Regions from separate parts of the Homo sapiens genome. Here regions 2, 3 and 4 are each reported to be linked to region 1. The links are microRNA targets in miRTarBase. Many come from high-throughput screens and were not tested one by one. Region 1 holds a microRNA gene; each other region holds the end of a gene's coding sequence.

The links. The annotated mature microRNA hsa-miR-1272 reads GAUGAUGAUGGCAGCAAAUUCUGAAA and lies in region 1 at 5,500-5,525, opposite strand. An mRNA with a match to its seed (bases 2 to 7 or 8) in the 3' UTR can be bound and repressed. Matches are read on the target gene's strand: a 7mer-m8 pairs with bases 2 to 8, a 7mer-A1 pairs with bases 2 to 7 and ends in A, and an 8mer does both.
Region 2: the mRNA of TTC14 is a reported target of hsa-miR-1272. The part of its 3' UTR that is shown has no 7-base or 8-base seed match.
Region 3: the mRNA of OPHN1 is a reported target of hsa-miR-1272. Seed matches in the 3' UTR shown: 7mer-m8 at 7,035-7,041.
Region 4: miRTarBase lists TCEA1 as a target of hsa-miR-1272. Seed matches in the 3' UTR shown: 7mer-m8 at 1,772-1,778.

The regions. Positions count from the first base shown.
Region 1 is chr15:64,756,972-64,764,674 of GRCh38, forward strand. MIR1272 (microRNA 1272) reads right to left here and starts at 5,544; the gene lies at 5,416-5,544. All of the region lies in intron 1 of RBPMS2 (RNA binding protein, mRNA processing factor 2), which reads right to left. RefSeq lists an enhancer at 6,772-7,657.
Region 2 is chr3:180,609,652-180,616,651 of GRCh38, reverse strand. It overlaps TTC14 (tetratricopeptide repeat domain 14), which reads right to left. Exons shown (of 12, transcript NM_133462.4): 12 at 5,522-7,000. The coding sequence ends at 6,110. It overlaps CCDC39 (coiled-coil domain 39 molecular ruler complex subunit), which reads left to right. Exons shown (of 20, transcript NM_181426.2): 18 at 1-136; 19 at 289-371; 20 at 1,575-2,644. The coding sequence ends at 1,731. Among named protein-coding and RNA genes, the nearest start is that of TTC14, 11 kb to the right of the region's middle.
Region 3 is chrX:68,042,386-68,050,088 of GRCh38, reverse strand. It overlaps OPHN1 (oligophrenin 1), which reads left to right. Exons shown (of 25, transcript NM_002547.3): 24 at 1,632-1,673; 25 at 2,926-7,703. The coding sequence ends at 1,665. Among named protein-coding and RNA genes, the nearest start is that of NXTAR, 260 kb to the right of the region's middle.
Region 4 is chr8:53,961,578-53,969,280 of GRCh38, reverse strand. TCEA1 (transcription elongation factor A1) reads left to right here. Exons shown (of 10, transcript NM_006756.4): 10 at 1,169-2,725. The coding sequence ends at 1,177. LYPLA1-TCEA1 (LYPLA1-TCEA1 readthrough) reads left to right here. Exons shown (of 21, transcript NM_001425842.1): 21 at 1,169-2,725. The coding sequence ends at 1,177. Among named protein-coding and RNA genes, the nearest start is that of TCEA1, 57 kb to the left of the region's middle.

The sequences.
Region 1 (7,703 bases):
TTTTTTTTTTTTTTTTTTGGAAATGGAGTCTCGGTCTGTCTCCCAGGCTAGAGTGCAGTGGCGCTATCATAGCTCACTGCAGCATCAAACTCTTAGGCTCAAGAGATCTTCCTGCCTCAGCCTCCAGAGTATCTGGGACTATAGGTGTGCACCACAATGCCTGGCTAGCTTTTCCATTTTTGTAGCGATGAGGTCTCACTATGTTGCCTGGGCTGGTTTTGAACTCCTGGGCTCAGAGAATCCTTCTGCCCTGGCCTCCCCAAAGTGGTGGAATTACAGGTATGAGCCACCATGCCTGGCCTCAGTTTCATCTTCACAACACAAACACCATCTACCTCCAAGACTAAGAGCTCACCTTACTCTCCCCATTACTTGTGAGAGCAATAAAATGCTGGCTTCATTTAGGGCTCCTGCATTTACCTGCACAAGGATCTCCCTCATCAGGTGCCATGAGCCACTTATTAAGGTTGTCTACTGAAGCTGGTAATGTGGGTAGGATGTCCTAAGGTGGTCACTAGATTCTTTAGTTTTTCTCTTCCCCAGAGGAGGTAATGCCCGAAATAGAAGACACCACAGAGATCAGCTAGTTCAACCCCTTCGTTTTATAGATGGGGAAACTGAAGCCAAGAACAGGGTAACAAGGCAAGCTGATGGCACAGCCAGGATCTTTCAGCAATGGCAGGAACAGAGACATGCAGTTACTTCTCCAAGGTCCAGCCAACTAGTCTTGTGTCTCAGGCCAGTACAGGGGACCATTGTGGTACCTACGTCAGGGTAACAGGGGAAACATTCAGGAACAGGCTGGATGCTCCAACCTGGGCAATATAGCAAGGCCCTATCCCCCCCCACAAAAAATCAGCCAGGCGTGGTGGAAGGCACCTGAAGTCTGAGCAACTCGGGAGGCTGAGGTGGGAGCATCGCTTGAGCCCAGGAATTCAAGGCTGCAGTGAGTCATGATTGCACCACTTGAATTCCAGCCTGGGCAACAACAGAGCAAGACCCTACCTCTAAAAAACAAAAATAAAAAATAAAAGGTTAGATGCAGACAAGGATTCAGGCACCGACAACTAGTTGATGACAAGGAAAGTTCAACCAAATAACTCATGTCCTGCCTATTCCATGGGTTTATTACAAGAATTCAGCACATACACAAAACGTTTTAAAGCATTTAAAGAGTGCACAGGGGTGGTTCTCACAATCTCAGGCTGCTGGAAGGCACCAAACGCATTCACTTGGGCCCTTTTCCATACTCTCATCCCTTCTGCAGAAGCATCCAGCAACCCAAGGGTTCCTGTCCCAAAATGTGAAGAGCAACCACAGCCCTTCCAAAAAAGTCACCCTTATGGCAAGTAAGAGCAGAAATGCTGGGAGCACAGTCAGGTCCTCAGCACAGCTGGAAGGTACACCTGTAGTCACATGGAGCAGGTATGGGGGAGACCGGGGGAACGGATGGAGGATGATTCTGAGAACTCAGTCAAAGATACTTGTTGAGGAACAACCCTTCTGGTGGAACCTGCTGCAAGCACCAATATAGGCAAGGAACGTGGCCAGGGTTGTGTACCCATACAGAATACCACAGACATGGCTGTGTGGCTCTCATGACCCCACAGGAGCAGACCCAGCCCTGCTGGAGGTCCCAGCCAGTGCCAGGCCTACCTAGGGGAACTGACCAACTTTTGGCACAACTGCCTCTGCCCAGCAAAGCTTTGGAGGCACCCAGAGCTGCTCTTTTCTGAGGCAAGTCTTGCCTCTAGAGTCACAGGGAGTGGGAGGGTGGGAGAGGGGTCCATGGACCCCACAGGCTATCACTTACTGGCACTTCCTGGAGTCCTCTAGATCTTTGCTGCCAATTGTTTATAAGCCTGACTCCTTTGGGGAGAAGGGCCTGTGTGTTCTTGAGCTCTCTCCCGCCAGCCAGTGCTAGACCTAGAGTGCCTGGGAGCTACCTATTTTTATTTTTAATTAAAAATTAAACTTTTATTTTTATTTTATTTTTATTTTTTGAGATGGGGCGTCACTCTGTGGCCTGGGCTGGTCTCGAACTCTTGGGCTCAAGTGATCTTCCTGCCCCAGCCTCCCAAAGCACTGGAATTATAGGTGTGAGCCACCTCACCCATCCTGAGCCACCTCTTGACCTCTCCCCACCTCCCCGGGAGGCCCCTCAGTCTCACTCCCAGCTCCAGCATCGTAACTCAGCCCTGGGGTCCTGGGGAAGGGGAGCACAGCACCTGGGTGGCACAGGAAGTAGAGCCCCCCATCCTCAGCCTTGTTTCTGGAGGCCCCTGGAATGGGGAATCCCCTCCTAGTACGAATAGATCTAGGAGGAGCTTTTGGACCATGCTGTCTAATCCCACCACGACGGAGGAGCCTGCCCAGGCTGCCCAGGTCACCCAGCCCTCTCTTTCAGGAAGGTGTGAGCTGCAAGCTGACATCCAAATGTTCTTCCTCCACAGCCCTCTCCAGCCTAGAGGTTAAGGGGTCATTTTTTAGAGAAGAGAAGTAAGAAGAAGGGGCTCTGACAAACCCATTCCCATCTACGTGTCGGTGATGTTCTTCCTTCAGACAAACTGACATTTGTTTCAGGATCTTCAGAAAAGACCAAATTAAACAACCCTTCAGGAGCAAAGTATCAGGAGCACCCAAGACACCAGCACAAATCCAGGCTTGCGTGGAAAGGGACTCGGCCTGTTTTTCTTTTTTTAATTATTTTTTAATTTTTTTGAGATGGAGTCTTGCTGTCACCTAGGCTGGAGTGCAGTGGCACCATCTCAGCTCACTGCAACCTCTACTTCCCGTGTTCAAGCGATTCTCCTGCCTCAGCCTCCGGAGTAGCTATGACTACAGGAGCGCGCCACCATGCCCGGCTAATTTTTGTATTTTTAGTAGAGATGGGGTTCCGCCATGTTGGCCAGGATGGTCTTGAACTCCTGACCTCAAGTGATCTGCCCACCTTGGCCTCCCAAAGTTCTGGGATTACAGGCGTGAGCCACCGCGCCAGGCCTACTCGGCCTGTGTCTATCAGCTCAGGTAGACGTCTCTCTTGGCCCTGGACACTGCCATGGGCAGACCTGGCATTCAAGCTGCTGCCACAAAAGGCCAGTGCCCTGGACAGCAGATGCTTAGGGTCCCTCCTTCCAGGGCACACACAGGGCCCAGCTCACATGGAGGTCCTGCAGGAATAGGGAATGGGCTCGTGGGGGAGAAGGAGGGGCCAAAGCAGCTGAGCAAAGCCTCCATGAAGAACAGGACTGGGACATGGGGTCGGCCAGGAGCCACGACCATGGGGACCCCACACTTGGTCAGAAGTGGCTGCGGCCTGGCCGCTCACCAGAAGCGTGTCTCCCTCTGCAAGGGGAAGGACAAGCCCGATGCTGAGGGATCCAACTCTAAACTTCTCAGATACTGTGACCATGAGGACAAGTTCCGTAAGTGCTGGCTTTTATTAGTGATGGAAAAGGTAAACACTGCTTTCAAAAACAGTGGTAGGCTCAGGGATATTAAAGTCTCTTAAGCTTTAAGTTTGGAGGACAAATCCCGGCCTTAGAATAGCCACGAAAGGACCCCAGACTCCAGGAACCACCACCTAGAAAACAGATCCTTCTCCGGATCACCTGAGGTCAGGAGTTCTAGACCAGCCTGGCTAACATGGTGAAATCCCCTTTCCACTAAAAATACAAAAATCAGCCAGGCATGGTAGCGCACGCCTGTAATCCCAGCTACTCGGGAGGCTGAGGCTGGAGAAATCGCTTGAACCCAGGAGACAGAGGTTGCACTGAGCCGAGATCACGTCATTGCACTCCAGCTTGGGCAAAAAGAGTGAAACTCCATCTCGAAAAAAAAAAAAGAAAGCAAACAGACCCTTCTCCACCAAGGATACTGAGGCAAGAAACCACTGGAACCACTCCCCACTCTTCCCTGCCCACAGACAACCCACCAACCCACCAGGAACAGTCACCCCTAGAGGCCAACTCTGGCCTTCTGTAAATTCCTGTCTCACAGGATTGGGACTTGGAGAAAAGACACCCCAGGAAAATCTCACTGCAGGCAATAGAAATATCCTTAAAAAAAAAAAAAAAAAGACTTTTGCAGCAACCCTTTAGCATCTCTAAAAGTTAGAATTCAATCTGGAAAGGAAGAATTGTTTCAACTGTCCACTCACAATGTTCAAGTAACGAATGCACGTGCTTCAGCAGTCCCCTACCCACTGCTTCGAGCGAGCTCTCCCGGTGTCATCCCGATGGAAAACACTACTTTGGGAAGGGGGTGAGAAGAGGAGAGAAATCCAAAAAGGGAAAAACGAGCCTCTTATAAGCCCCTCCCACATCCTTCCCCAACTCCCAGCCCTCAGTAGCAACCCAAATACAGAACATCTGAGCTGGAAGAAACCTTATTTTTAGAGGAGGAAACCAGGGCCTAGGGGTCGAGCGAGTTGCTCGCAGTTACCGAGCATGTCAGAAACAGCCTGTTCCCAAGTGCCCAGCTCACGAGTCAATGCTCTTTTGCAGACCTTGATCTCACACCAACCCACTCAGACCCAGTGGGGCCAGCCCAAGGTACCCAGGAACAACTGGCCTTCGGCTTTTTTGAGACAGGGTCTTGCTCTGTTGCTCAGGCTGGAGTGCAGTGGCGCAAACATGGCTCACTGCAGCCTCCTGGACTCAAGCGATCCTCTTGCCTCCATCTCCTGAGTAACTGGGACCACAGGTGCACACCACAAAGCCCAGCTTTTTTTTTTTTTTTTTTTTTTTTGAGACGGAGTCTCACTCTGTCGCCCAGGCTGCAATGCAATGGCATGATCTTGGCTCACTGCAACCTCCACCTCCGCCTCCTGGGTTCAAGTGATTCTCCTGCCTCAGCCTCCCAAATAGCTGGGATTATAGGCACCCACCACCATGCCCGACAATTTTTGTATTTTTAGTAGAGATGGGGTTCCACCATGTTGGCCAGGCTGGTCTCAAAAACTCCTGACCTCAAGTGATCCATCCGCCTCAGCATCCCAAAGTGCTGGGATTACAAGCATGAGCCACTGTGCCCAACTCCCGGCTAATTTTTTAATTTTGTGTAGAGGTGGGGTCTCACCATGTTGCCCAAGCTCATCTCGAATTCCTGGACTCAAGCCATCCTCCTGCAATCCCAAAGTGACTCACGCCTGGCCTGGTCTTCAGCTCATGAACAAAGAGGACAGACACAGTATCTTGCAAAAGGTTGGGGTAGGTATGATGGTGATGGTGGCGATGGCAGGGGGGTGGGGGGTGGTCCCACTGGATGATGCCACGGTGAATCCTACATGGTTACAGGCCAACGACGAGACTGACTGACAGACTGTCAACTCCCCACAGCTGAGTGTGAGTGGCCTTGTGCCCCACTAGCTATGGGGAGGTTGGGGATGGGTGCTGGAGCAGGCCCAGCCATCCCTACCAGCCCAGACCACAGAGCACACGAGCTGCAGCCTACATTTCTAAGTTTACGGCTTTCCTGTTATAAAGACACTGAGCACGTTTTCAGAATTTGCTGCCATCATCATCGCACCCAGATCTGATCTGGCTTCCCCAAGGGAAAGAGACCCCACTGAGAACCAGGACACTGCACTCAGGGTCCAGCTCAGAAGATACCCACTGACGAGATTCCAAACAAAAGACAAAGAACCTCAAAACAACGTCAGGAAGCCCAGGGTGAAGCCCCAGCCCTGTCACCAGCCATAGCAGGTGGCTTTGTGGCCTTCGCTTGTCAGCCTCAGCTACAGTAGAGTAGACTCGCCTCAGGTCCCGTCACACACTGACACTCTATGACACCAGGCGTTTTAAAGGGCAGTAGAATGCGACTGAGTCTCAGATAAGACTCAGCCACCATCCTCCATCTGCTCAGAGCTTCAGTGACTCCTTCTGCACACAAGGTGGCAAAGAAGTGGTGTGAACAGAGAAGAGAAGGGGACAAGATGGAAGTCAGGGGCCAGCCAGCTCTGGGCCCTAGACCGACCTGGGCCTGGGAACTTGAGGGGGGTCTCTGCAGAGCCAACGTTAGGGCTGCCGAACAGAAACGTCAGGGCAGTCATACCCTTGGTGTGGTCTTGGTCGCCGTAGTGGGTAGGGGGTGGGGGTGGGAGTGTTTTGGGGGATTGGGTCCTGCCTGGGCCCCGCGCTTAGGCTTGGCACCAGCAGGTTGCTCTTACGCCTCCCATAGGAAAGAAGGCCCTCTGAGTATGGCCACTTGACGTGAGGTGGATGGAATGTGGCGACATGGCCTGCAGACCCAGGACTTATAAGGCTCTGAATAAGGACACAGGGGAAGACAGCAAGCAGCACACAGCCAGACAGTGGATGTGAACCTAGATCCACACACTCCACAACATGTTTCCCATGCTTCCTGCAAGGAGCTCTGGGGTGGCTCAGCTACCCAGGCAAGGACGATGCCCAGATCCCCTTGCAAGAAGCCCCCATCTAGAGGACACTTGGCCCCAGAGTTTACCAGTGTCACCACAGCCTCACCTAGTAAGGACAAGTCCCAGGTTCAGGTGGGATCTGGTGTTCTGCCTGCCCCTGCTATCCCTCTTGCCCCAAATCCCATGTTATCAGGGCCTGGCTATAAGGCCCCATCCTGGGCTGCACCTTGTAGTTTCATTCCTTTACACAAACCATCAGCATGCAAAGCTCATAGTCCTTTGAGCAACAGGTAGAACAGGTATGGGGTCCCCATTTTACAGATGCAGAAGTCAGTCCAGGGATCAAGTGCCTGGCTGGCCAGTGGCAGAGCTGAGGCTTAAGTCCAAGTTGCCTGAAAAGTTTGGGGCTCTTCCTCATAATGTGCAATGTGTCCTAGACTTCCAATGGTGTGTGTGTGTAGGGGTGGGGGGAATAGAGACTGGGGGGAACTAAGCCAGGGTGAAAAGTTATCTGAAAGGAGGGACAGGGCTGGGCAGGTATAAGAAGGCTTCAGGCCTCATTCTCCAAGCCACTTCCAGCCCCAGGAAGAGAAGCCTTAATGTCGTGGGAACACACCTGGTCAAAGCCTGTTGTGTGCACTTGACCTACACCTCATTTAGGGAACTAGACCAAACAGAGAATGAGCTGTGCTTGCAAACTCTGTGTCAGGGCAGGCTGGCTGAAGCGTGCCTTCCATCAGGATCCAGACAGAGCCAGGGGCCAGGACTTGGCTTTCAGGGGCAAAGTTCACTGGGCACCCCGGCATGGAAGCCTCCCAGGCCCACCCACCTCCTGCAGCCTTCTTGGTGCTGTGTGGCCAGCTAACACAGATCTACTGCCTGCCTGTGTGCCTGGCAAGGGTTGCAGTTGCCGCCACTGCCATACAATACCCTACAGAAGGGACTAGATTCAAGGCATTGGGCTAGAGGACCCCTACACCCCTCACTGCCAGCTCCTAAATCAATACCTCCAACCCTTAAACCACATGATGCTATGCTGGCATGAACACACAGCCCCGAGCCCACCACACCTAGCCCATTACTTGACGGAGGCGAATGAAACCTGACAGGAGAGATGTTTCCTAACATGATGCTCCTGTCAGGAGGGGGTTTCTGTTCAGAGGTAGAAGCTGCTTCTGCAACCTGCATTCTGATTTGCAGCTCCCTGCCACAAACATAGCAGGACCCTCCATCCCAAGCTGTGCCCGGATGTATATGGCCACGACTGTACAGCAAGAACAAGAGGTGGGGCACGGTGGCTCACGCCTGTTATCCCAGCACTTTG
Region 2 (7,000 bases), not on the chromosome of region 1:
AGATGAAACAATGGAAGAACAAGACATCAAACTTCGTGAAATGAAACAGTTTCACAAAGTTATTGATGAAATGTTAGTTGATATCATAGAAGAAAATACTGAGATCCGTATTATCCTTCAAACATACTTTCAACAGGTAATACAGCACCTTCTATTAAATATTTCTTAAAAACTTCATGAAAATAAAAACTTTCATGACATTCATCATGAAGTGAAAGCTAATTAAAAATATTTATCTTCTAAAAAACAGTAGGTAGTACTAATGATTGCTATTGAATATTCCTCCAGAGTGGGTTAGAACTACCTACAGCTAGCACAAAAGGCAGTCGTCAGAGCTCTAGATCTCCTTCACATACTTCACTATCAGCAAGGTAAGCGGAGGGTTAAAAAAAAATCTGCTTAACTCTCACAGCTGTACACTAAGTGATTCCAGCCACTTCTACATCACCGCAGCTGTTAGGCAGGCCCATGCACTCACTGCCAGTGTTCTTTTCACTGTCAGACATCTCACTAGTCAGCATCATATAGATTAGATGCAGAAACAGCCAGCAGAACAAGAATTTCCTTCTGACTTCTGCTGGTGTCACTATTTCCAGTATAGCCCAAGTGCTCTGTGACTATGAGCTATTTCAGTAGGATAAAACAGAAATAAATTTGGGGGCTACATCTAGCATTTGGGGGTGAACCCCCAAGTTGGGGGAATTTTTTTAAAAACATGTAAGGGCAGCTTAGATGTACAGACATATAGAATATGATTTTTGTGATTCAAACCACACTGTGGTATTTTACATAATCAGGATTTGACTTTATGAAGCTTTATTTTGCTAAAAAGGAAACCCCTTTTTTTTTCTTCTGCAGTTGTTACCCAGAATTCTATCACCAGATGCTTAAGCAAACATTCTTGTGCTTTGCTGACAAAAATTTATTAATAATGATCCTGATTTTAGAATTCACAATCTCCTGCATTCAGCAGCTACTTATTAAATTACTATTCCTTAGTCCAGGTAAAAATTTCATGAAGAGGCCCCTAAAAAAAGTGTTTCATTTAAGTATAAAAAACTGTTTCTATATAACTGAACATCCCTGTACTTTCATAAAATATATATTTAAAACTTTTTTCAGAATTATATAGCTAGCTGTTTTTCAAATGACCCCACCACTTTATCCATCAATATGCTTCTCTCTTCTCTTCAGCTTAAATTACAAAAGGTATCATTTTAATTATTTTTGCCAGCACCAAATCCTCTTGGCCCTATTTCCTCTGTTTTGGAAACTTTCAATGCTTAATGATTCCAACTCTAAAAAACTGATTATAGTTCAAAGCATTTTTACCATGTAGGAACATACTTATTAAACTACTTTTCTACTGGTTTGAAACTCATCTATGTTCATCTTTCCTTTCCTGTTTAAATTGTTTGATATCTATTGATGGTCATTTAAAAACTTAACACTATTAATATGTACTTTTTTGATGTCTTTACTTATGGAATTATGGTACCTTTTGCCAATAATGAGAGGGTCTATACTAAAATATAAACTTTGCATTGAATTTATAATTCTGGTTTTTCTTCTAGGTCATCTAGGAGTACAAGTACATCTACTTCTCAGTCTTCAATTAAAGTACTGGAGCTTAAATTCCCGGCCTCCTCTTCACTAGTAGGCAGCCCTTCTAGGCCATCTAGTGCTAGTAGTAGCTCTAGTAATGTTAAGAGCAAAAAGAGCAGCAAATAAACATTTTAATCTCTTCTGAAAAAGTTGTAAACACAAAAACAAAAATATACTTTAAAATACAAAACGACCCAACACATTTTATCTAGTGGAAAGTGTAAAAACTTAGTGGTAAGTGTAAAAACTGATAGTTTTAAAAAAAAAGGAACGTTCTCATTTTCTCTACTGTTTTCTTCATACTGAAGAAATTAATAGCAGATTCTTGACAAGGCTACATGTTATACAAGCATAGGAAAAATGCTGTATTTCACTGTAATTCTGATGTTCGTAGTGTTAGAAAATAGTTTGCTTCATTATTTCACGAAACTACACTCACTTCTAATGTAACAATCTTTCAAGAAGAAATTTCTAAAGATTTACTGTACTATTATGAGCGTATTGCAATGTGAAAATCTCATTTACCCTACAAGACACCAAAATTAGGTTTTCTTTATTCAAAGTAACTATTTCTCAGACTTTTGGGGAGAAAAATTGTTAAAGGCAGTTTCTTCTTTTGCTATAATTTTTAACCAAAAAATAGCATCAACCCCTACCCACCCCACCCCCCCAAAAAAAAACCGGTAAGAGAAACACTGTATATCAATTTTAAAATGCAGCATAAATTTAGAAAAATCACTTCTGACCTTGAAATAAATCACTTCTGACCTTGAAATAAACGCATTAAAGATTTGCTTTCAGATACAGCCAACCAAGTATAAACAATTTTGAAATTTTCTTGATTTAATAAACGATTTAATGAAAGCTAGGTATGACTTGATTTGCAATAGAAATTTCATTTACAGTTGGAGGTAGACTGCCAAATGTAGTAGTTTTTCCAGTTAACACTTCATTATAACATGTGCCCAACACTTTGTACTCTTGGAATAGAGTGTGGAATATTATAAAACTGGATTTTAAATAAATGTATTAGAATTCACGAATGTACATGTGTCTCCTTCAAACCTTGGGAAAAAATGCTCATTACAACTGTCATTATTTTAGAACTGTTGTTTGTACTTCTTTCTGAAAAGCAGTAGTGGTAGTGAATAGTTCTCCTGATTATTTTTTGTTTTGTTTTAGAAATAGGAAAAAGGCATAGCAAAGTCAAGAATAAGGTGGGCGAAAAAAAAGGTAGGTAATAAAATTTTTGGCTAAAGTACTGCTCTAATGCATGAGATTTATAAGACCTAAAAACTAATTAAAGTCACTTTGCTCATCAAAGTTCTTATTCTCAGCCCTGTGCTAGTTTGGGAATTACTTAAAACTTGAAGTAATATTAAACACTCTTCTATGAAGGTAGAGGTTGTATCTTACTAGCTCTGTAACCTTGGATAGTTACTTCCCTGTTTTCCTCATTTGTACTATAGACACAGAAAGTTACCTACAAGTTTACCGAATTTGATAATATAAAAAAGATGCACAGGGCTTGACACACAGAAATTGCACTATATAACTTCTACTTACTGAGTTGCCACCTGGAGCTTAGCACAGAATTTGTGGAATGGTTTGGTTCTTGGGCCAGCATACGAATCTACATTTAATCCTTAAATAACAGTTCTAACAACTTCAGTGTAGTAATGACAAATGGTGCGACAGGGGATCAACCTATCTCCAAATCTGGACACTTATCCTCATATCCAAAAGTCATGCTTCATCTGCTTATGGAGACCAAGATATGGCAATATATGATCTTGAGAAAAATTACTGAAGATGTCGCTATTCTTGACAATGTAAATCCCCAATAATTTTTGCTGTGATGAACTTCCTTAGAAATTGGTTTGTATACTCTGCTTAATATGGCATAAACTGCAATTACTTTTGCGCCTACCTAATAAATTCAGGCAGCCTACAGGATAAGGTACTATTCTCTTACATTGAATGGGGTGTAATAGCCATTCTGACTGATGAGAGATATCTCATTTGGTTTTAATTTGCATTTCTCTAATTAGTGATGTTGAGTATTATTTCATACGCTTCTTGGCCATTTTTATCTCTTCTTTTGAAAAATACCTATTCATGTTTTCTGCTCACTTTTGGATAGGGTGATTTGGTTTGCTGAATTCCTTGTAAATTCTGGATGAGTCCCCTGCCTGATGCATAGTTTGCACATTTTGTCCCATTCTGCAGGTTGTCTGTTCACTGTGTTATTTCTTTTGCTGTGCAAGAACTTCGTAGCTTACTTAAGTCCCATTTTGTTTTTGTTGTGTTTAAGACACCAGTCTGGCTGTCACCCAAGTTGGAGTGCAGTGGCACAATCAGAGCTCACTGCAGCCTCGAACTCCTGGGCTCAAGCGATCCTCCCGCATAGCTGGGACTATAGGCATGCACCACCACACCCAACTTATTTGGATGGAGTCATGCTGCGTTGCCCAGGCCAGTCTCAAATTTCTAGCCTCAAGCAATCCTCCTCCCTCAGCCTCAAGTGCTGGGATTACAGGCATGAGTGACTGTACTCAGCCCCTCTTGCTTCCACTTTTGAGGTCTGAATCATGAATTCTGCCTACGCCAATGCTGGTAGGTTGGCAGGGGGGTAAGGGATGATAAATTATGAAATGGGTACAATGTACATCATTTGGGTGATGGTTACACTAGAAGCCCAGACTTCACCACTACACGATAGATCCATGTAACAAAAATGCATGTGTACCCCTTAAATTTATATGAATTAATTAAGGAAAAAAAAATTTTTTAAATGTTGTGTTTAAAATTTTAAGCTGAACTAGGGATTCCAAAAGGTCAAAGGCTATGTATGCCAAGAAGTAGTTTTCACTCTTTCTTTATAAACACGACTTTGTAAAGATGATACTGGAGCTATTAATACATAGAATTATTAAGGACTCTTTTTAAGATGAATTTCTTAAAGAAGCTTCTTCTTGGTGCAAAGACTAATGCTTTGAGTGACTAGCCGATTTCTATCACCATTATCTATTGCTCTTGACCAGGGTTTCTTTTCACTGTTCCATTTGCAAAAGAAATTTCAGATTTTTCACTAGGCTCTCATTACTGGAGTTTGATAGACACAGATAATACACACCCAGTACTTAAGGCCTGGACATTTTACTGTTGGCAAGAACTGCAAGACAGAACAAGGAATAAGTCTCTTCTTCCTCTATTATTCTCCCTCACTTAGACCTCTGTAGATCCTCAGCTACCCACCCACTTATCTAGTGTCATTGTGTGTGACAGTATCTAAAGTCCATTGTAATTTACAGCTTTGAGAATCTTAAACTGCAAACTCTAATGACATCATAAACCCAGTACCTATGACTCCTATCTCTATCTGTCTCCCAAAGAATATACCACACTATTTTCAGCAATTTGGGGAGGATCTTTATAATCCAAGTCTCTTTGTTCTTCAGCTCTAGCTGCTGGAATTTATTATTCTTAGTAAAACCAGGCTCTAGTTGGTCTAGTTATTTATTCAGACTCTGAGAAAGGGGTCATCAGAGAAGCATCAAGGCACAGGAGGTGGTAAGAAGAAATGCAGGTCAGATTTAACGACATGCCTAGTGCCTTCTGGACTGAACATCTGCTACACTAGGAGAGTCTCCCAATTTTCTTTCCCTAAAGAAAAGCCAGATTTACAATGTGCTTCTCTGCTACTGCTATGTTTTTGCTAAAAGGATTTTTTTCTTTTCTGATTTACCCTTGCGTGGAATACAGGCCCTAAGGGCCTTGTAAATATTTAAAGTTAAAAAGCTTTTTATGGCTATGCTAGCAATGAGGTAAAAAATAATGGAGAAATAAGCAAAATGGGCTCCTATTCAACTTTTATGATCTTATTCCTAAGGCACTTATGCTGGGTGGAAGCCAATGACTGTTCACAAACCACTTTTAATCAAATTGGGCTTTAGAGGAAAATTAAGACATATAATCTACCATTTAAAAATTTTAAAAAAAATTGGGCAAAAAATGTAATATTTAAACTGATAAATATAAAAGTGTTCAAGAAACATTCGAACATATAATCTTTCAAAAGCTGACGATTTTTAATTTAACAGAAAAGAAAATGAAATTAATTTTTATAAAAATGATCCAAGTGTTCAATGCACAAATTTTTCTCTCAAACAGCAGAATAAGATGCACCCAGGAATTCTCATATACCGCAATAGAATGAAGAAACAGTACTTTCAGAGAATTATCTTTAGGTGAAGAAATTCAAACTGTCAAGAGTAATATACTGTACATAAACATATACATAAAAAGTCTAAAAACCAAGCTGTGACAAGGGACCTAGAACTGAAACAAAATTTGAGAAAAACTTACTTAAAAGCATTTGTTTCCTGTAATCTCTACAAATAATTTTAGAAGCAGAGATTTCTGCACTCAACTGTTATGACTAATACAACCAAAAACTTCACTTAATGGCATTTTGTGTAATGGTGCCGATATCCTTGGTGTATTAATTTTTTGACTTATTTCCTTTTTCTTTTTCAAATTCAGCTATCTGATTAAATATATTCAGTAAATTCTGAGGTAAATTTTTCTTAACACTGCTTTCTGAGTGTTCTTTGCTACTTAGTGCATCTTCTTCTGGAACCTCTGTTTTGATATCCTCCCCATAATTGTCCTCTCTTTCATATTCTCCTTGATTTGTATTTAAACGGTATCTTTGCTCATGTCTACTGAAATCACGTGATCCAGAGTGAGCGTATTTTTTGTATTTCTCAACTGACTTCCAAGAGTATTCTGAGCTTGCTGGTGAGGTAGAATGCCTCACAGAACCTGGTTCCCACCTTCTATAGTGCTCTTTTCTTCCCTCTATATCCTTTTCAAATCTCCTATAACCATAAATCTTGTCCTCTGAATTCCTACAGAAGGAATCTGAGGAATTTCTTCTACTGGAAAAATGTCTTTCTGATTTATATGGCTTTTCTGTTTTGCTACTACCTGCTTGGGTTTTATAGCTGTTATAAAAATCTCTTGGATCTTCAGACCTACCTCCAAAATCATCCGGTATTTCAAGTGAAGATGAAGAGAGAGGGCATCTATCTTTCTCTTTTATCTGTGTCTTTTCATACTGTAACCTATCCTGCTTCCCCAGTAGTTTCTCCACTTCTTGTTTATGGTTAAGAAAAGATGCTGAAGTATTAGCTGGAACTGGGTAGCACTCATCTTTCCTATTCTGATCTATCTGATTTGAGGATGCCCTAGATGAATGCCTTCTGGAACTGCGAGAAGACTCTGAACGGTTCCTCTTATGTTTCTTATGCCTTTTGTGACCAGAAGAGGAAGAGGATGATGATGAAGACACTGATTCATCAGCAGAAGAAACACTTGAAGAAGAAGTTGA
Region 3 (7,703 bases), not on the chromosome of region 1:
GGTCATTGTTGCTAAGTTCTTCTCTCATCTCTAATGAAAATGATGATCTTTTTAAACTTTGTCTTGCCCCTTTTTGGTCCCCATTTGTATACCTGACTACGGCCTAGCGTTTGAATGACATCACCCCCTTATTCATTTCCCTTACACAATTTAAACATAAATAACTAAGAAGAAAATGAGTAGTGGCTCATCAAGAACATAAAGGAGGTGAGAACATTTCAAAGAGGCCCGACAGCTTATGGTTTCAGAAGTTATTAGTGTTCCACTTTGGCTAGAATGTGGGAGTGAAAAGAGGGAAACTTAGCTGGGGGTGAGACCAGAAAGATGGATTGGAGCCAGATCGTGAAGGCATTGTATAACATACTAAGGTGCTTGGTCTTTATACTGCAGTCCATATGCGGATGAGTCATAGAAAGGGGGGAAGAATTTCAAGAATGACAGTCACATTCTGAGCTGACCAAGTTGTAAAAAGATCACTTTGGTAGTGGGAAAGATAGATGGGAGAGTAAAGACTGGAGACCAGTTAAGGAGACTAATTGTCCTGGCAAGAGTTGGGGAAGCCCTGGCCTATGGCATTCCCAGTGGGAATGGAACAGAAGGGACAGATTTGAGAAAGACTCAATAAGACCTTGCTACATTTTCAAACATGGAACATTGATGAACCGAGAAAGAGAAAAGTCTAACTTGGGCACTTAAGTAGATGGTACAATAATTAATCATGGAGAAGCAGGTTTTATGGGAAAGATGCTGAGCTCAATTTTGGACACAGTGATTTTGAAGACACAGTTGTTAAATTTATACAAATTTTTTAAAGACACTTTGAGACTTAGGTAGAGATAGATGTTCAGTGGGTAACTGCAACTTAGGCTAGCAGTTGGAGCTGGATGTATGTATACATAGATTTGGGGGTTAGAAATATGAGTATAGCCACTATATAAGTCTGGGGAGTGGGGCTAGTCACATATGCTACAATGTGAATAGTAGCCTGTTGTGGGGAGGTCCCTAGTATTTGGTGGCAATTGAAGCCATGGATGGGAATAAGATCCTCCAGGGAGTAAGTGTAAACAGACTGGAGAGAAGAGAAAAACAGAAGGTTGAGGACATAGCCCTGGGGACCAGCTGTTGTACGTAATGCTCTGGCCACACTAGAGTGGGTTTCATTTGCCAAGATTTTCTCCTCCCCAAGCTGTCCCCAGACATGGGTAATTTAGAACTAATCCAAGCACATCAAGAGGCTGGACAAGGTTGGTTTGGTCTTCTAGGCAAAGGAGGATTCATCTTTCACATGGTACTTGTCTGTGTCCTCACCCTTATCCCTGTTAGAGATCATCACAGAATGTAGTTCGTGGTCTGCAGCCAGCTTCCCTGGGTTCTCCAAGCTTCACATAGTCTGGTACTCAGAGAATTGTTCTGGCACCTGAAAGATGTCTTCACATCTCTTTAAGCCTGCCAGAGAAGGAGCCCCAACTATAAGCATGGAGCTAAATGTTTTGAAACATCTGGGCTGAATCACTTCTCCATTTTTCAAATGGCCTCTTTAGCACTGGCCTAGAAGTGTCCCCCATTCCCCCAATTTACCTTTCCAGTCCTGATTTCTAGAATCTTAGTGAAACGTCTTTCTTTATCCACAGTTCTCAAGGCAGACTTCCTGGAGATGAAAGTTGAGGCTACAGGTATGCAGTCCCCATCCCTGATTACAAAATCTTGTTCCACATAAGCCTTCATTACGGGATCTGATATTTTGAGGACTGGAATAACATGTAGATCAGAAGGGTGGGAACTCACTTCTACGCCTCAGTTCATTACTCTATCACTGCCTGACCCTTAAATTTAGTGACTTTCAATTCCAAGGTTTTGTGTGATTTTAAGTAACCTTCCTCTTTCATTTCTTTTTCTCCTAGCCAAACTATGGCACGCTTTTACAGATTGCCTTTGAATCAAATTTATTAAGAATCCTAGGCTGTGACATTTTGGGAAAGTACATTTACTTCTCTGAGCCTCAGTTTCCCAGTTTCTAAAATGAGAAGGTTGGAACCTTCTAACTCTGACACCTCTCGGGCCTTTAAGGAAACCAGGAACATGCTTTCTGATATTATAACAGATGCCAAGAGGCTACCTTAGTGTCTGTAGATGGATTCATTCCTGCAGACCAAATCATTATTTCAGTCTTACCCACCTGAACCTTCATTCTTAGTCCTTTATGTTTGTCCAATGCAAAGCACTTTCACATTCATTATTTCATTTGATGCATATCACATGCCAGGAGAAGGGAGGATAATATGTGTTCTAACTCAACAAATAAAGGAACTGAAGTTCAGAGGGGATAAGTGACTTGCAAAGGTCACAGGAGACTCAGAGGTCAGGGAAATTCCTTTCTCTATCATAGGAGTTCTGATTGTTTGACTATCAGATTGCTGGCATGATGTGACCTGATAACACACATAAATGAGATCCAAGTATCTGGAGCTTGGCTTTTCATGTGCTCCCTAACCTTCTTTTTTTCCCTGTCACTGCCAGTCCTCAGAGGTCCGTGGGTAGATAAGCTTCTCCTTATCAGCCCCTATGGAGGTGAAGTCCCTGTTAAAAGGAAGTTTATAGTTATTGTATGACCATAAAGGCAGTGGGCATGATGTGGGAAGAAATCTCAGAGGTTCTAGTATCAGGCTTCTATTTCTCCATGTAGATTTTGGGGAGTTTGAGTTGAGGTCAAAGGCACAAAGTGTCCAGCCCTGGTCATAGCACCATCTTAGGCCTGTTTCATGAGATTTGACTTGTAAGAGCCTTTGCCCAGCAATCCGCTGTTGCTCAGAAGATGAGCTACCAATTATAGGCTTAGCTACCTACCAAGAGAAGCCCCACTGATCAGTGGCTGTTAAGTACTTGACCAGTCCTCGCTAATTCCCTACTCTCTTCTTTCTCTTTCAGGTTTTAAAAGCCTTGGCCTCAGAGGACCCTTTCCAGGTTCTGAAAGAGTCTTTCTTCTTCAAACCTTTGTGTGCGGAGTCATTTTGTGTTGAAGAGCAGCTCCTTCCTAGCCTTGCACTTTCAGACTCTCTCTGGGAGGCCATAAAATAAGGAGCATATGTCCTAGACAGGTGTTTATATCTCCTTTGTATTCTGTCTTCATCCCCTCAGAAGGTCTGTTTTGAGTTCCTATAACACTGTGAAGAGCTGGACTCCCTCAAGCCAGACTCTGCCAAAACCAAGATATCCACTTACCTGAGTTGAAGAGGGGAGCTCAGTTTTCAACTCTTCCCTGAACTTCCTGCTTCCTCAGAGGGCCATTGAACTCTGAGAGATTTGGGGCTAAAGACTGATCTCAGGGGTCTTACCTTGAACTGAAGGCCACTTGAGTTGGGGCCATTGCTTACCTTGGTTGGAAGGGAATAGAAATGTTTGCTGAACATTGGAGAATCTCAACATGTCTCCTACTGAGGATATGGACACTGGTGCCATGTCAGCGCTCTGGTGCTGCAGTATGTTGCCAAGAGCCCGTCTGCTCCTGCGAGGCTATGAGTGGGATGAGTGATGCCCCCACAGCACCTCCATGTGGACTTAGGAAGGTGGCCTTCCTGCTGTTACATGCAGCCACTTAGGACAAATCTGCAAAGCATGTTTTGCATGTAAAAGCCTAGGTCTATTTGGATTATTCTTTCTCCTTTTTTTTGACAGCTTCCTGTCAAGCAATCAAGAAACAAACAAAAGCTGAACACATTTCTTTTTAAAAAAAGGAGACTGTGTTTGGTCCTGTAGGAGTTCTATTTTGGGGTCAAATGCTAGAAAAATTGTTAAGGTGGATTGAGGCCAGGCAGCTGTCACTGCTGCTTCATGTTTGCCTTCTGCACATAAACTCTTTTATCTCCTGAAAAAAGCAGTTCTTAACCCAGTGTCCATGGACTCAGAAACTCCATGATGCCCCTGAGATGGTATGCACAATTCCATGACAATATGCCCTTTCTGGGGAGATAGTCCATAATGTTCTGCTAAATTTCAAATGGGCTCGTGACCCAAAAAAGTCAAGAACCACAGCACTTGAGTAAAATACTCTTTTTACAATCCATATAAGCCCTTGATTGGAAGGGCTTTTCAAAATCATTTAGTCTAACAACTGCCCAGTTTCCAGTCGGGGGAACTGAGGCAGAGCAAGGTAGTGATCACACCAGTACAAGATCTCAGGTCCCAGGCTCCTATGCAAGTTTTTTTTCCCCATTATATCACACTTATCTAGCAAGGGACCTTGTGGTTTGTGGCTTTAGTGGCCATCATTTCTGGGGGTTGGCTTTTACCCTTTTTCTTGAATATTTGCCACCAAGTGAAAAATGTTAGGACATAAACCCTTGCCAGGTCCCTTTCATTTGCTATCTCTATTATTGGAAAGGACCTAAAAATTGGTGTAATGGGGCAGAAATCTGAGGAATGGACATTTCTAATTCCTGTTTGTTGAAGGGAAGTTGCTGGAAAGAGCATCAGTACTTGTTTCTATGCAGATGCCTGGGCCGTAGCTTGTCTGTAGCGTCTGTATAATTATAATGTTGCCCAGTGTGAGGGAAAGAGCTTTCCTACTTGCACTCTTCTACCAAGGCCCTGTTAGTGCACTGATTATAGTACTGACAGATAAACCTAGATAAAGAGATAGAGAGTGAGTACATGCACACTCATGTGCAAACCCACTCAGAGATGCATTTGGAACAGTGCTACTGAAAGGCAGTAGTCATTTTCAAGACTGAATTCCAAACATGGTTTATTGGTGAGTTAGGAACATGTAAGGCCAAGTACACTGAGAGCCTTTTTGAAAGTAATTGAGTGGAAACTTGATGCCATTCTAAATCAAGGCATATCCAGGTGGCCCGGTTGAACTCACTCCACTGTACCCAGTCTCAAAGGCCAGGTTGCTAAGAAACCAGGAGTAAAAGAGTCAAGTGACCATCATTTCACCTGCTGCTTGCCCCCAATAGTAGTCTCTGTGAGGCCTTACTGACCTCACCTAGGAAGTGATTTTTGAGCCCTTGTTTCAGGGCTGTGGCCTCCCTGCTCTATCCTGAATAAAGCAGACAGGTGTGCAGATTTTGGCCATGAAAGCATGGCTAATAGGGCCACAGTCCCTTTAAAGAAACATGGTTTGACTCTGGTTTTCTTGGGGGAAAATACCACAATCACCGATGCAAACATTGGAAGATTATTGAGAGCCCTAGAAAGCTGCTGTGATCCCAGTAGAAAATATGTCCCAGAAATGTCATGAGATTGCTGTGTGTTGCCTGGGACACAGATCAAGGGCCTATCTTGGAGAGCTGGGGACCAGCAGTCTGCCTGGAGGCCAGGGAGCAGTGGCTGAGTAGCTCTGCCTTTGCTCTGGTCTATACCTTAAGAATGCCAAAGAATGAATTTCAACGCCTGCCTTTGGCACTCTGACTTAAAGTGCAAAAAGCTTCTGTGGCGAGGCATGCTATCATGGAATGAGACTGGCTTGCCCTAGGCTTAATGGATGGGCAGTCATTTTGCAGAGGCTATGGGAAGAGGGTGATAATAGAAGAGTGGCAGCTATAGGAAATTATCAACATACCTTGGCCAGCAAGTTAGAGAATCTGGCAATGGATGAACTGAAAGTGATGAACTGGCAGGGATAACAAAGAACCTAACATTTATTAAGCACGTATTTATTAACTGCTCAGTGTTTCATATTCATGCAAGTATTCTCATTTTACAGAGAAAGAAATTATGGCCCAGGGGGCTAAAGTAAACAACTCAAGGGCACATAGAAAGTAAATAAAAGGACTGTGATTTGAATCCAGGCCACTCTTAGCCCATGCTGTTTTCCCTTTGCCACACTGTGGTAGGTGTTTGAACAGAGGCCACATTACTAGAGTTGGCATGACTCTTGACTCTTGCCTGCCTAACAAAATATTGAAAGGCAAACATTTGAAGGAGGGAGGGGGTGCAGGTTCAGTTTATATGGAAATGCAAACTGGGCTGGAAGATATTCCTGAGTTAGGCTTTCTCTTCATATTCAGCTTGCACATTTGGTAATGTTTTTAAGATGATCATCTAATTTTATTTTGTGAAGTGAAGGATTTGTGTTTTAGTTGGCAGTTGTTAAGTCCTTGGCTTGCCATTTTTCAAAAAGTAAAAAGGTCCTCACAGGTGTCTCCATACTTCGCCAAGGTTGTAGCATGGGCAGTTTCAGTTTCAGCCTAAGAGACTGGTGACATCCACAAATGCAGTTTTAGAAGCAGAAAAGGTCTTGGTGCCTCTGCAGTACTTGATGTATTGGGGTCAAATCTCTACAAATTTTTCTGTGGTGATAGCAAAATCAAGAGATGGCTTACAAAAAGAAATATTGAATTTTTATTTTTGAAGTTTTTGTTTTTTAAAAGGTTGGGGGTGTTCAGCCACTGAGGGACAAAACTTAGCATCTAATTTCAATTATAGTGTCATGCAGAGTATTTCTAAAGTAATTGGTTATCATGGGAAAGTATTCTCTTTTCAAGAAGTTCTTTGATTCTGTAATAACTAGAACAAATAAAGTAGTAAAAGAAGAAATAGTTCTGTGACTAGGAAAAAATTGCTTTTGAGAGAACATAGATCAATTATACTACTTCTAAGGTAGCTGCAGATAAGTGGCCTTGACACATTACAAGCCTGGAAAAAAACATCAGAAATAATAAAAAATTTCAGAGAGAATCAAGATACCTTTTTTTTTCTTTTTTTTTTCTTTTTTTTATTATACTCTAAGTTTTAGGGTACATGTGCACATTGTGCAGGTTAGTTACATATGTATACATGTGCCATGCTGGTGCGCTGCACCCACTAATGTGTCATCTAGCATTAGGTATATCTCCCAGTGCTATCCCTCCCCCCTCCCCCGACCCCACCACAGTCCCCAGAGTGTGATATTCCCCTTCCTGTGTCCATGTGATCTCATTGTTCAATTCCCACCTATGAGTGAGAATATGCGGTGTTTGGTTTTTTGTTCTTGCGATAGTTTACTGAGAATGATGGTTTCCAATTTCATCCATGTCCCTACAAAGGATATGAACTCATCATTTTTTATGGCTGCATAGTATTCCATGGTGTATATGTGCCACATTTTCTTAATCCAGTCTATCATTGTTGGACATTTGGGTTGGTTCCAAGTCTTTGCTATTGTGAATAGTGCCGCAATAAACATACGTGTGCATGTGTCTTTATAGCAGCATGATTTATACTCATTTGGGTATATACCCAGTAATGGGATGGCTGGGTCAAATGGTATTTCTAGTTCTAGATCCCTGAGGAATCGCCACACTGACTTCCACAATGGTTGAACTAGTTTACAGTCCAACCAACAGTGTAAAAGTGTTCCTATTTCTCCGCATCCTCTCCAGCACCTGTTGTTTCCTGACTTTTTAATGATTGCCATTCTAACTGGTGTGAGATGATATCTCATAGTGGTTTTGATTTGCATTTCTCTGATGGCCAGTGATGATGAGCATTTCTTCATGTGTTTTTTGGCTGCATAAATGTCTTCTTTTGAGAAGTGTCTGTTCATGTCCTTCGCGAAGGACAAGATACCTTAAAGATAAGTTTTCGATAAAGAAAAGCCTTCATTTTCCTGGGGGAAATGAAGCACTTGATGCCAAGGACATTAGTAGAGGGCTAGAAAGATTGCCTGTGTGAAAGACATATGCTATATCCAAATAATAAAACAAACGAGATCCTGGGGCTCA
Region 4 (7,703 bases), not on the chromosome of region 1:
CCTCACTGTGTTGCCCAGGCTGGAGTGCAGTGGCGCTATCTCAGCTCACTGCAACCTTCGCCTCCCAGGTTCAAGCGATTCTCCTGCCTCAGCCTCCCAAGTAGCTGGGATTACAGGAATGTGCCACCATGCCCAGCTAATTTTTGTATTTTTAGTAGAGATGGCGTTTCACCATGTTGGCCAGGCTGCTCTTGAACTCCTGACCTCAGGTTATCTGCCTGCCTTGGCCTCCGAAAGTGCTGGGATTACAGGCGTGAGCCACCGTGGCCGGCCCAGTACCCTTATTACGTACAAAGATTTAGTTCTGAGCTGGAAAGATTACTGCTACTGAAAGTGTCTTCATGGTTTGAAACAGTATTTCCTACCCATCTCAGGTTGCAGAAGTTGTCATTGGTCTAGGAGAGGGACATTCACCTTCTTTTTCAATCGTGTTGAGAAAATTTGGCCTGTTCTCTTGGATTTGTTTTGCATGATGGATCTTTTTTGTTGTTGTTGTTGTTTGAGATGGAGTCTTGTTCTGTGGCCCCGGGTTCAAGAGATTCCCCTGTCTCAGCCTTCCGAGTACCTGGGACCACCATGCCTGGCTAATTTTTTGTATTTTAGTAGAGACGGGGTTTCACCACGTTGGCCAGGATGGTCTTGATCTCCTGACCTCATGATCTGCCCATCTCGGCCTCCCAAAGTGCTGAGATTACAGGTGTGAGCCACCGTGCCCAGCTGATGGATCATTTTTATTATGGTGATGAGGTGTACAGTGCAGTTTGCTTTGAATACATGCACTTTGTGACACAAGTTTTGACATAGTACTTAATTGAATTTAAGAAAGTTCAATTTTAGGATAGAAAGCTGATGCCTAGAGTGGCATATTTTAGAAGTTCAATTTTGGAATTGTTATTTTTTTTTTTTTAACCTTAAAAACATTATAAAGAGGTATTTAATAAAAATGCTGAAATTGTTTTATACAAGTTCTTTAGTTGTATGTTCCTAGTAGTTCTAAGTTGGGAAAGTCAGGCACTTAAGATAGGTGATTATTATGTGTGAAAAATACAGCATCTTTTTCAAAAATGCATCTTTTTTAAAAGCAATATCAGGTGTATGCTGTATTAAATGGGGAATGTACCTTATTGGTATTTAAAGGTCTTACAAAATATTTTTTCTTTTTTGACAGTTCTGTTGAGTTGGAAGAATTGGCAAAATATCTGGACCATTAAGAAAACGGATTTTGTAACTAGCTTTAAACTAGGCCAAGCAACTAGTTTTCCTGCAAATCAAATTTTTAAAGCAACTTGGGTTAGACTTTGTTTTTGACCTAACATCCCTTCCTTAAATGCCTTCTGTAGTTTCAGATCAGTAGGGAGACCATATAATAATTTTATGGTACCTGTTTCAAAACATATTTTTTCTGTTTTTATAAGTAAGTTGATATTAATTAAACTCTTGGCAATATTTCTTCTTTCTTAAAGGAAAATATACCTTAACTTTTTTTCTTTTACACTGTGAAACATACACAGTAGAAATTCTGTTACTCTCTGTTATTAATACATAAATGAAAATACATTTTTTTCCATATTGGCATGTAGCTACAAATATTAAAGGAGGAGAAAAGGTAATATAATTTTAGGTTTACCAAATATGGTGTGTATTCAAATAATACTTGACCAGCTTATCTAAAATGTACATAATTTTGAGGTAGCTTATGAATTTGATTTTAATTATTATGTTCACAAGCTTGGAATATTAGATATTATTTTGCATCTGTAACTAACCGTGATCATCATTTCTTGTAATTTCTTGTACATGTATATTACTTGTTCTTAATAGATTTTTGGAAACAAGACTTTATTGAGATCAGTTTGGTTTTCCTGTTAATTTACCTGTTTGACTTTATAATGTGTTTTAGTTTTGCAGAAGAACACTGTTGTAGTTTAGAAGGCTTTTCATAAATCCCCTCATAGGCAAAGATGAAAACTTCCCACTATTTTTTTCCCCTCTTAGGAAGACATACTGGAAAGAAAATGTTTAGCATCTTAGTGTAGTATAGCTATTGTAAACAGTTCATGACTAGATTTTGATTCGGAAATCTATACTGACCAAGGATTAATCTTAAGGATTGTATAATTCATTAAAGCTGTGGTCTTTCCATGTGGAGACTGATAGAAAATAATTTTGTCCCAAGTCTTATTTGCTGACTTTTTCTGTCATGAGTGAGATTGTTGAACAAACTGAATATATGGGCTATAGCAAGTAGCTTTACAGTACAGATCTTACAATTAAGTTTTGCTTTTGTTAAAGTGTGTACCATTTTTTCTGTTTGGAGTAAGACAAAAATTGTTTTGACATAGGTTCCCTAGGGTACACTTGCTCTAGCATACTTTAAAGGCCACTGTTGCAAAGTCTACATTTTATGCTGAATCTGCATTCTGTCAGGCACCCGTAGAAAGACCTCAGTACATGCTTTGCACTCTCCTTTGCTCCCTTTTTCCAATTTCTTATTGCATATCATTTTGTTGTAATACAGAAAGCAGCATTTTTAAATGTCCGTGTTAAGAATTGGCCCACTGGTACCAACTCACCTCTATTTTGTCAGTTCATAGTTGAAGATTTTGTTTTATTTCAAAAACAAAGTACATTTTTGAAATAATGTTTCAGAATAAAATAATCTCACTTTTAAGTGATCCATTTTAAAATTTGTAATTCAATAAAGTTTTTTTTGTTGTTAAACATATATCACATTTTGTCATTTTATTTAGACAATGAAGCTTGCTTTACCTTTTGTTTAACCACACACCTGCTGTCCCCTCAACTACTAAGGTATTTCTAAAGTACAGTTTTAATTAAGTGAAGCCTGGTCTTCAGTAAAAACTAGTATTCAGCAGCATTACAGAGCATGTTTTCTTTCTTATCTTTTCCTGGACCTCTGGCGATGGATGGAATGGCAGGTTCTGAGTAAATACGTGAGTGCATCCCATGTGTACACTTAATTTAATGTGAGAGACCAAATAGTGAGTCTTGCTATTGGAAAATACTAGACTTTATTTATTTATTTTTTTATTTTTTTGAGATGGAGTCTTGTTCTGTCACCCAGGCTGGAGTGCAATGGTGCAATCTCGGCTCACTGCAACCTATGCCTCCCAGGTTCAAGCGATTTTCCTGCCTCAGCCTCCCAAGTAGCTAGGATTACAGGCGCCCGCCACCATGCCCAGCTAATTTTTGTATTTTTTAGTAGAGATGGCATTTCACCATGTTGGTCAGGCTGGTCTCGAACTCCTGACCTCAGCTGATCCACCCACCTCGGCCTCCCAAAGTGCTGGGATTATAGGCATGAGCCACCGTGCCCGGCCCAATACTAGACATTTGTAAAGTAATCAGAAGTAAATATTAAGGGTAGTATTTTATGATATTTACTTTGAGGGCAAAGTAACTTTGTTAAATGAACATGCAAAGGAATTAGACAAATATACTAGCAGATAATGAAGAACCATCCTGGGGAAAGCAGAAAATGATAATCTTGGTTTTCTAGCTTACCTGGATGATGACGAGCATTGGTTTATAAATTTTGCTAAGCTGTGGCAAAAATTCAGAAATATTTATATTCACCCAATCACTTAAACCTATATGTAATCTTACAAATGGCAAATATTTTAAGTATTAAGAAGACAGCAAAAGAAATAACAGGCTGTGCTTTGAATTATTATAGCTACATAGTCGTTGTCCTTGTGGGTCAAATTGTAATTTGTGGATTTGAATTGACTTTATTTCTTTTTTCTTTATTTCTTTTTTTTTCTTTTTTTGGAGACAGGGTCTCACTCATTCACCCTGACTGGAGTGCAGTGGCACAATCTGCTCACTGCAACCTCCACCTCCTGGGCTCAAGTGATCTTCCCACCTCAGCTTCCCGAGTAGCTGGGATTATAGGTGCACGCCAGCACACCCAGCTATTTTTGTGCTTTTATTAGAGATGGGCCATGTTGCCCAGGCTGGTCTTGAACTCCTGGGCTAATGCAGTTTGCCTGCGTCAGCCTCCCAAAGTGCTGGGATTACAGACTTGAGCCACTGTGCCCAGCCATTTCTCAAAATAAAAACTACAGTTAGAGTTGTGATTTAGAGAGTTTCACTCAACAGTTGTTCCCAGGCTGGGCTTGGTGGCTCACACCTGTAATCCCAGCACTTTGGGAGGCTGAGGCAGGAGGATTGCTTCAGCCCAGGAGTTCGAGACCAACCTGGGGAACAAAGCAAGACCCTGTTTCTACAAAAAATAAAAAAACTAGCTAGGCATGGTGGTGCATACCTGTGGTCTCTGCTATTCAGGGGGCTGAGGCAGGAGGATCCTTTGAGCTCAGAAGATTGAGGCTGTAGTGAGCTGTGTTTGCACCACTGTACAACACCCTGGGCAACAGAATGAGACCCTATCTTAAGAAAACAAAAACAAAAAAACAAACCAGACCAGTGAGGTGGCTCATGCCTGTAATCCCAGCACTTTGGGAGGCCAAGGCAAGAGGATTGCTTGAGCTCAGGAGTTTGAAACCAGCCTGGGCAACAGAGCGAGACCCTGTCTCTATATAAAATTTTTAAAAAACAAAAAATTGTTTTCTATCTCCCCTTTATTTAGTTGTATTTAGTTGTAGAAAATTAATGATTCAAAAGGAATTGTATATCCCACTGGGAAACCCGATGGGGATAATCACTGAATTACTAGTGAAAGCCACATATGAGGCCAGGCACGGTGCCTCACTCCTGTAATCCCAACACTTTGGGAGGCCGAGGTAGGTGGATCACCTGAGGTCAGGAGTTTGAGACCAGCCTGACCAACATAGTGAAACCCTGTCTCTACTAAAAATACAAAATTAGCTGGGCATGGTGGCACATGCCTGTAATCCCAGCTACTTGGGAGGCTGAGGCAGGAGAATTGCTTGAACCTGGGAGGTGGAGGTTGCAGTGAGCCCAGATCGTGCCATTGCACTCCAGCCTGGGCAACAAGAGCAAAACTCTGTCTCAATAAAAAGAAAAAAAAAAGCCACATATGAAAAACAAAGGACCAATGTTAAGGATACTACTTCACAGGAAATAGGACAGAGTTACTGACAAATTCCTAGGAAGTAATGGAAGAATTATGTTGAACAATGTTTAAGTAAGTTGAAGTCAATAAAAAGTAATAGTGAAATTGAGTGGAAAAAACAGCTTATAATCATGGCTATATTCGATAATCAACAGCTATAACTTAGTAGAGGTGGAGTTAAGTTCTTGTGGGAAATGTGTTCACTGCTGTCTCTAGCATCCAGAAGAATGCCTGTCACATAGGTGCTCATGAAATAGTTTTTCTTGGATATGTCTTTATCAATGTGTTACATGATGTTCTTGGCTGTTCAAGAGCTAAGATATAAAGAAAGAAAGAATGTTCCATGGGTCGAGGACTTGCAGAGGTAGAGTGGATAATTAATGGTTGGTCATGTTTTAGACTCCAACTTTAAAATAAGGAATGTAAGGAGTTAGAGTGTTGGGAGATCCCTTTTGGTGCTTTATTTCTGCAAAGTGATGCAACAGTTTCAGTGTACTCTTGGTACTTGTTTATCCAGCTGGAGGATGGAAATTGAAAGCACAGGGAGCTGTCTCAGGTGACTTACCTTGTTCTGATTCCTCTCCCTGGATGCTATATAAAGATAGCTAATTTTTATTTTTCCCCTTAATGGCCATGATTCCAAAGAGACACATTTCATATGTGATATCCCATACAGTCTGGTTAAATTGGTCCAAGTGTTTTTATAATTGGGTGACTGAACTACTTTGAAGTAAACGTTATTTGTGTGATAATGCCAATGTGAAAGTATAGCAGGTATTAAAAAAGCAAAAACTGAGAGCACTGGAGTTTGGACTGTGATAGGTATAGCTTCTGTCTCAGCATTAGTGAACTCATGAATGAACTCAGCATTAGTTCCCAAATGCTTTCCTAATTTATTTAGGGGCAGCTTCGCCCCTTCTCCTCTCTACATGACTCCGGCAGGTCTCATTCACAGTGTCCCCCCTACCCCATGCCCGTCCTTGAGATTCCCATATGAACAGTGACAGCTAAGCCACCTTGAGCTGCGTTTGGGGCTCCCTGCAGCTTTTTGCCTACTACATGCAGAGATCCTTTGTGTATGATGAAGCTGAGGGGAGTTGAGATGGAGAGAGTCCTGATAATATCGGACATCTGGACCCAGCCATGTGGAAGCTGGAACTACTGTAGACTTCCTGCTTATGAGGAGAAATCATTTTCCTTTGTGCTTAAGCTAATTTGAAACAGGTTGCTCTCACAAGCAAGTGAAAAAAAATCTTAAATTATTTTGGGTGAATATTTGAGTTAAATAAAAGAGCTGATACAAAACATCAAAAGCTGTGAGAATACTGCTAAGATTTCCAGTTAACCTGCAGAAGCAAAAGAGACCTAGGGGAGCATTAAGGTTATGGGTTAATATCAGGCTGACTTATCTTAATGTTTTGCTGATCTGTCCATCTTTTTCAATTTTTTTATTGAGTAAGAACAGGTAACATGAGATCTACCCACTTAACAAATTTTTATATTTATAAGCACAATGTTGTACAGCAGATCTCTAGCACTTACCTTATATAAGTGAAACTTTATACCCATTGAACAGCAGCTCCCTACTTCCCCTCTCGCCAGCCCCTGGCAACCACCATTCTATGCTTCTATGAGTTTAACTATTTTATGCAGTATTTGTCTTTCTTTCACTTATCATAATGTCCTCACGATTTGTCCATTATCCTGATTCATCAATTCTGTCACATATGGCAGGAGTTCCTTACTTTTTTTTTTTTTTTTTTTGAGACAGAGTTTCGCTCTTATTGCCCAGGCTGGAGGGCAATGGCACGATCTCAGCTTACCACAACCTCTGCCTCCCGGGTTCAAGCAATGCTCCCGCCTCAGCCTCCCAAATAGCTGAGATTACAGGCGCACACCACCACACCCAGCTAATTTTTGTATTTTTAGTAGAGACGGGGTTTCACCATGTTGGTTAGGCTGGTCTCGAACTCCTGACCTCGTGATCTGCCCGCCTCAGCCTCCCAAAGTGCTGGGATTACAGGCATGAGCCATCATGCCCGGCAGGAGTTCCTTACTTTTATGGCTAATATTTCATTGTATAAACACACATATATATACATATCACTTTTTTTTGAGATGGGAGTCTCAATTTATAATGACTCAAATGATAAATATTGTGCAGAATATTCCTGCAACATTAAAAAATGGCCCCCAAACACAGGATGTAGGTATGACTTAAGAGGTCAGGTTTCTTGGAGGAGGCAAATCTTATAGAAATGATAGGAGTTCGCTGGGTAAAGAGTGGAACTTTAGAGGGAGCAGGTAAGGGAGAGCAGAAACCAAGTTTTCAGGAACAGTCATGAAGGTCTGAGTGGCATATGCACCTTTTCTACACATCTGTGTTCTAGAGACTAAAACAGAAACAGCTGGCTAGGGAGGCAGTAGCCTGACTGCAGAGGGCCTTGCTTATTATGCTGGGCCAAGAACTCAGTATTTGACTCCAGGCAATCAGGAACTACTGAAAGATGTTAAGGAGTGGAGGGATGGTGACAAGCAGAAATGTATGTGAGGATGACCACCTTGTAGGCATTTGAAAGATGGATTTGAATGGGCTGAGACTGGGAGCAGGAGACCAGGAAGCTCTTTTGTCAATGATGCAGATAAG